Linked DNA regions of Homo sapiens. The protein of the gene in region 1 interacts with the protein of each later gene in a pairwise test. Each region holds a gene or a part of one and is shown on either strand. Other genes may lie near its edges.

Region 1 (3,922 bases):
TAAAAAAGCTTTTTTTTTTTTTTGTTTTGTTTTGTTTTGTTTTTCTTTTTTGAATTGTGACATCTAAGCTCATGGTCAGGAGTATGGATTATTTCATCTTCCTCCTCTTCCTTTACTTTTTTTCTGTTTGAAAATAGCCCCTTTACTTATCGTTAAACTCAATTCTAAATATTAACCACCTCATTGTGTTTCTTAAATCTAATTTTTAAGGCCCTCTATTTTTTTTTCTTCCTGGGCTAACAATTTTCCAAACCAACTTTATTTCACTTTTTTTTCTGAGCTGGTGCACCCTCTGGTGGAGTTTCTGATAAGAAATAACATGGCTAGGAAGCAGTTAGCTGGAGAAGTGCAGTAATCATGTAAGCTCCAAATCGCAGGCATCTTTGAGATCATTTATTGACCTTTAGGATTTTGCACAGTGTACCACTGAGACTTAAGGTGGAGAGAGGAAGAGGGGAATTCACTACGTAGTCAGAGAACTACACTGGAACATGTGTCTTTTGGCTCCATATGCTCCCCTCCTCGAATCATTATTTCCATTTCTCTCTTAAATTCAAGTTGTAAACAGAAACTTTTTGAGTTCCTAAAAAAGTAAGAGTATTCTAATTACTCAAATATTACTTCCAAGATATTCAGTATAGGAAAGGTTATATTTTTGAAAATGAAATTATTCCTCAGGGATTGGTCAAATTGGTATGATTATGGTAAAAAGAAAATCATCGGGGGGAAGTGAGAGCTGACTATAATGCGTAAGAAAGACATTTGGAATAAGAATTATCTAGAATTAATTGTTGAGGGAGATAATTTCTGTCCTTATCAGAACGATTTCCTTTTGTTACTTTGATGTCATGGAGATGATTTCTGTGCAATACGAATGGTTAGATGAGTTGATCTTTATTCTTCTTCTCTGTGCTGAGAATCTGTGGACCTTAGATTACACATTTATGAATTTGATAAATTCAGGAAGAAATATGCAGAGTTGCTTCATTGGTTTCTCTGTTACATCACTCAGCATTTTCTAGGGCAGACACTCTTCTAAAACCAGATGCGTAACTTCATGTGAAATAACGGACTCTCAAACTTACACCACTATACAGTAGGGTCATACTATTATAATTCTCCTTTTACAACTGAGAGAACTCAGTCACAGAGCCATTAAGTAACTTGCGCAAGTTAGCATAGCTGGAAGTGGTAGAAGTAGGTTTTCAACCCAAATGCTCTGTCTGCAGAGTTCATGTCTCTTATCACCATGTCGTGGTGCGACTGGGACAGTAATAGCCAGCTCTAACCTCATAGTACCATGTGGAGTATTGCCTGAATGAATCCAGTATCCCGTGTTCCAAATGCTTTAAGGAAATACTGAAAATTAAAAAAAAAAAAAATAGAAATGAGAGCCTGGTGAGGATCAGACAGAGAATAGGCCAATAGTGAGATCAGTTTGTAAACCGAATATAGTAAATACCGTATATAAAATTTGAATTGAACTGTAGATCTGACTTAAGCTTCCTAGCAGCTAGCATAATGAGAGAGAATATTGGTTATATAGTGTCCTCTAAAATTAACAAAATGAACAGCATTACTCACCAGATGTACAACTATTCCTGGCATCGAAACCAGAGAAAAATTCAAGCTATGAGGCCTCATAAAGAGAACACTGTTAACATAAGAACAATGTTTTCCATAGTATTCTCAGAATAAATTCAGTAACAAATTGCATGAATTTTTTTTTATTTTTAAAAAGTCATTCCTCAACATAGGCCAAAGTGCAATTCAGCTACAGTAATTTGAGGGATGGATGAGTCACAAATCATATTACCCAGAAACTGGTAGTAAATTGTATAGTATCTCAAAGAATGAATGGACTATGCATATCTCAGGTATTTCACCAGATGTATAATTGATTAAATGTTGGATATACAATATAACTTTGTGGTTGAAATTCTGGGCTCAGGAGTCTGTCCCAGGTCCAAGTCCAAGCTCTGCCTTTTAACTTGCTTTCCTACTCTTGAGTAAGATATTTCACTTTATCAAGCCAAGCAAGATGTGGTATATCATTAGAAAATCTATCAATGCAATTAATTTACAGAATCTTTTATATGTATAGTCATATTTATATTTCATAAATCAATCTATTTTTGTTCATTCATGCACATCAGTGTCCTTGGCTATTTATCAGAAGAGGACTAAGTCAGAAGTATGATAAGAGGGGCTCTGTCATGCTTTATTTCATAAAATAAATTACTTATAGCATTTAAATTTTATACAAAGACAGCACAGCAAAGCTTTGTTCATGTTAAAAATACAGTTAGAAAAGTAAAATAATTGGATTGGATCAGAAAAACGTACCCTGGTGTTGAAAACAAATTTAAATAGGGAATAATAAAATAGACCAGTGTTGTTGTTATTTGAGACGGAGTCTCGCTCTGTTACCCAGGCTGGAGTGCAGTGGTGCGATCTCGGCTCACTGCAACCGCCACCTCCCAGGTTCAAGCGATACTCCTGCCTCAGCCTCTTGAGTAGCTGGGATTACAGGTGCGTGCCACCATGCCCGGCTAATTTTTGTATTTTCAGTAGAGATGGGGTTTCACCATGTTGGCCAGGCTGGTCTCGAACTCCCCACCTCAGGTGATCCACCCACTTTGGCATCCCAAAGTGCTAGGATTACAGGGTTAGCCACTGCGCCCGGTCGACCAGTTTTGTTTGTTTGTTTGTTTTAATGGAAAATATATGCAAATTGTTTCGCACAATTCTTGGAACATAGAAGTTGATTAATACATATGTTTTTATTTCTAGCTAATCAGCACCTCCTCCACCATGGCCTCTACCTAGGCGATCCATGTTTCATGTTTTTACTTTGATGCTCCCTTGCATTCCAATCCAAGTCTCCCTTTTCTGTGTCCATTTTGCATGTGAACTTTGGACAAGCTACTGTCCTTTTGTGTTTCTCATTTTTTAAAAGACATTTGGAGTAGGCCATCTTTACGGTCCTTTTCACTGTAATCTGCCATGTTTGTGTGTTACTCTCTTATAGCAGTGCTGGTAAATGGATGAATATGGTCTCTTGGCTGGGTAGTGTATTTTATCAGGAGATAATGTCTCAGATCAAAGAAGTGATTTGAAACTGAAATCTCTTGTATAAATATAGTTAGAGAAAGAGGATTTTTCTTGGAGGGGACTTTTTACTCCCTCAGAAAACAGCATGACTTTCCTTACAGATTCATTCCGCTGACACTGTCTTGCGATAACAAAAGATTTGAGATATTGTGCACGTCTTCAATACATTTACTTACCTTATATGACCACCCTACATTCCCAGCCACTCTCTTTTTTGTGTTTATTTTCTGCCAATTTACATTTCATTTGAGGGTTAATTTTTTTTTGTTTTTACTCAAAAGCAATTGTATTGAATAATGATAACCATTACAGACACTTAGTTGCAAAATGATGTAGCCAGAGAATGTGATGCCTAAGTACCAGTTGAAGCCCTACTACTCATTTACTATTTCTCTTAGGTTTCAATCCCTTCACCTAAAAGGGAGAGCGGTAGCCTCAGCTACCGCTAAAGTCAGCATAAAAACTTTCTTAATACCGTATGTTTCTGTCACGTTGATTAGAGTTAGATTCAACATTTAAGATCCTTTCCAATTCTGAACTTCTTTATTTTGTTAGTCTGGGTCAAAGGCAGAAGATGAGGAGATAAGATAAGGGCAGCCAGGAAATCCTGAGTCAGATAAGCATGCAAACAATCAAATACTCTGTTACATCACAAACAGCATAAGACAGAGTGAAAAAGCAGTTCCAAAATTAACGTAAAGAAATAGCAATCGAGAGCCATGCAAAAGCTGAAAGAGCAGCACAAATTTAATAAGCAGATTGTTAACAATAAGAAGATCCACCAGAAGCAGGTGAATGGTCCCAATTT
Region 2 (3,922 bases), on another chromosome or scaffold:
CCAACAGAAACTTTGAGCAGACCTGGCTTGCAACTATTTATAAATTAATTTTGTTATTCCTTCTTTCCTGTATATGTGTAGTTCCATGAATTCTACTTTGAACTGGTTATAACATCTTACTGGTTCCCTCATGAATGAGTTACATAAAAATTTTGATATGTTTTCATTTTATGTTGTATGAAAGGCATGATTTTTGCCTCTGAAAGTATTTTTTAACATTAGGTACATTATATGCTAAGTACTTGTCTAGATACTTTATGTGTTTATTTTGCAGACACACAGAACACATTTGTATATGCCAGGTGCTGTTTTAAGTGCTCTATAAGTATTAACTAATTCAATCCTTAGAATAGGATTATGTCATTTAAACTTCTCTTCAGCTCTTATTAGCCCTATCTTATTAAATGGAGGCTCAGAGAGGCCCAAGGTTGTGTTATTAAATTGTAGGGTCTGTGTGAGGCTGAGGCAACTGCCCTCCCCAGAAGACACTGGGAGCTCCCTGCTAGGGACTAAATGTTTGTGTCCCCTCTGCAATTCATATGTTGAGACCCTAACCCCCAACGTGATGTTATCAGGCATTTGGCAGATAATTAGCTACAGGTGAGGTTATGAGCATAGGCCCCCATAATGGGATCTGTGCCCTTATAAGAAGTGACCAGGAAGCTTACTCTTTCTCTGTCTCCAACATGAAGGTGTCCTTCTGCAAACCAGGAAGAGGGCCCTCACCAGGAACTGATTGGCCAGCACTGTCATCTTGGACTTCCCAGCCTTCAGGACTGTGACGAATAAATTGCTATTGTAAGCCACCCAGTCTATGGTATCTTTGTTATAGCAGCTTGAGCCAAGATATACCCTCTAATGGTGCTGTAGGATGGGGTGAGGAAAGGCCCCCAGCTCTGGTTTTTGGGAAGCTGCATCTTTATTTTTATTATTTGTTTGAGACAGGGTCTCACTTTGTCACCCAGGCTGAAGTGCAGTGGAACGACCTTGGCTCACTGCAGTCTCAGGCTCCTGGGTTCAAGCAATCCCCTTGCCTCAGCCCCCTAAGTAGCTGGGACTACAGGCACGTGCCACCATGCCCTGCTAATTTTTGTATTTCTTTAAGAGATGGGGTTTTGCCATGTTACCCAGGCTGGTCTCGAACTCCTGAGCTCAAACCATCTGCCCATTTCAGCCTCCCAAACTGTTGGGATTACAGGCATGAGCCATCCTTCCAGGCCAGAATCTGCATCTCTAAAGAGCAGATTCTCCTGCCTCAGCCTCCTGCGTAGCTGGGACTACAGGTTCGTGCCACCATGCCCAGCTGATTTTTTGTATTTTTAGTAGAGAAGGGGTTTTACTGTGTTAGCCAGGATAGTCTTGATCTCCTGACCTCGTGATTCACCCTCCTTGGCCTCTTAAAGTGCTGGGATTACAAGTGTGAGCCATCGCGCCCGGCCGGTTTATTTTTTTAAAAATGGCTGGGCACAGTGACTTGTGGCTGTAGTTCTAGCTACTTGGGAGGCTGAGGCAGGAGGATTACTTAAGCCCAAGAGTTGGAGGCTGCAGTGAGCTATGATCGTGCCACCACACACTCCAGCCTGGGTGACAGATCAAGACCCTGTCTTAAAAAAAAAAAGTATGATTATTATCAGAGTCTCTAGGTGACAGTGAGAGGCAGCCTGGTGCAGGGGATAGGGCACAGTTGTAATCTGCTAGACTGGGTTCAAATCCTAAATCGGCCATTCAGAGCGTGAATACATTAGAACTGGCTTAAATTAGCATTTAAAATGTCAACAGGATTAAGTAAGTAGTTCCTTCTCACTTTTTCCACAGGAGGTGAGAAAGGTCTCAGCAAGGCCCTAGGAGGGAAGGGCGTGGGGATGAAAGGGATCCAGAGAGTCTGTGCATTGGCAGAGAAGATAGTGTAACTGGCACTGCGGCTGGAGGGCTGGTCCCACAGTGAGCTACAGCCCTGCCCGCTGGCCGTGGGAGAGGCTTAAAACAAACGCCGGAAGCAACTCCCAGCCCCATAAAGATCTGTGACCGGCAGCCCCAGACCTGCCTGCCTTCCTGACTTCTGTTCCAGAGCAAAGGTCATTCAGCCGCTTGAATCAGCCTTTTCCCCCCACCCGGTCCCCAACTTTGTTTACCCGATAAGGAAGGTCAGCATTCAAAGTCAAGAAGCGCCATTTATCTTCCCGTGCGCTCTACAAATAGTTCCGTGAGAAAGATGGCCGGGAACTCGATCCTGCTGGCTGCTGTCTCTATTCTCTCGGCCTGTCAGCAAAGTAAGAGGCATGGGAAGTTCGTGTGTGTGCGCGTGTGTGCGTGTGTGTGTGTGTGTGACAAGGCTTGCGGGAGAGAGAGGGAGGGAGGGAGATGGGTCCGGTGTTTTGTTTCCTACTTGCCCTTGCAGGTAGCTCTGGGTCCTCAGAGCACAGTCGCCTCAGGGTCACCCATGCCGCCTGCTACCCTCCTTCCCAGGGGCAAGCAGAGACTGAGAACATTCCAGAGATTAGTTCTCCCAACTGGAACGCTGTGGGGCCTCAGAGCTCAGCGATTCTGCATCATCTGTGATTACGACCCACAGCCCGTTCAAACGAGCGTTAGTAGCCTGCTAACCTGCAGGAAGTGGTGTGAATATTAATTACAAGTGTTCCAAAGGAAACGTGCCTGCTTCTAAACCTGGTTGTGATTTCTTGAACGTTGATGTTTTAATTAATGTGTTTTCTTAAATAAACTGCCTATGGTGGTATGATTATCAGATTGAAAAAAACTTCCTTCAGAAATATTAGCTTTAGATTAAGTAATTAGCTCTAAATTTTAAAACAGCTTCCCACTAGGATTATTCAATATCTCGACTGCCTGGTTAAATAGAGGGCTTTTACTCCATGGGAGTCACATTTGCTCAATTCATATTATCTTACCTACAATGTCAGCTGGGGAAAGGGGTCCGAGTGCAAGAGTGCAAGACTTCTTACCAAGCATGCATATTTCTTTATATTTCCAAGTATGCCTGTACCAGGAAATAGGGCCAAGCCGTAGACTGCTCAGGTTACACAAACAGCCAGAAGCAGGAAGGCCTCACAGCTGAGGATCCAGTCCAGGCCTCCGTGCATGCTCAATGTCTTGCCTAGCCAGTCTGTTTTGAGATTGTATGAAGATCTTGAACCTTCAGACTCACGTTTTGTGGTTTGATTCACACAATCTGTTGTGGAGAAGAGCAGGATATTTGTTTCTAATTAAAGAAGCACTTAGATCTGTTAAAAGGAAAACCCTAGACAAATTACATTTAACTGAGTTTAATTGAGCAAAGAACGATTCACAGTTGGGCATGGGGAACCGGAATAGGTTCAGAGAGACTCTGGGGCTGCCACGTGGTAGAAGAAGATTTATGGACAGAAAAAGGAAAGCGACTCCCAGAAAACGGAAGCATATAGTTCACGATGTACGGAGAAACCTTTAGGCTGAACTTAAAATATGTCAGAAGGCAGCTTTAGGCTAAACCTAATTTAGCAGGTCTAAGGCTCACTGTTGGTAGCATCCTGACTCACAGGTGCTACCAAACCTGCATGCGCCTTTATCCTAGGCCTGCAGGTCCACAGATGTCCCAAAGCTGACAGAGGTGCTCATCCTCCCTGTTTGCTGCTTGTGCAGGGGGCTGTGTGAACTGGGGCCAGAATGTTAGGGGGCTGGATGGAGTGGGGGTAGGGGTGGGGAGAGAGGAGAGGAGACTGGGTGAATGATGATTAATGGTGGACAGGGAATGTTTAATGACAAGGTGTTAGGGCCGGGCACGGTGGCTCACCCCTGTAATCCGAGTACTTTGGGAGGCCAAGGCAGGTGGATCACGAGGTCAAGAGATCGAGACCATCCTGGCCAACATGGTGAAACTCCGTCTCTACTTAAAATACACAAATTTGCTGGACATGGTGGCACG

What was found.
Region 2: the proteins of TMEM207 (region 1) and MGST2 interact in binary tests that used the Homo sapiens proteins (3 or more experiments, as listed by UniProt).

Annotation. Positions count from the first base shown.
Region 1 is NC_000003.12:190,443,137-190,447,058, forward strand, and holds part of TMEM207 (transmembrane protein 207 precursor), read right to left. Parts: intron 1-3,922.
Region 2 is NC_000004.12:139,663,808-139,667,729, forward strand, and holds the start of MGST2 (microsomal glutathione S-transferase 2), read left to right. Parts: upstream 1-2,011; 5' UTR 2,012-2,212; coding exon 2,213-2,270; intron 2,271-3,922. UniProt on the Homo sapiens protein: Catalyzes several different glutathione-dependent reactions. Catalyzes the glutathione-dependent reduction of lipid hydroperoxides, such as 5-HPETE.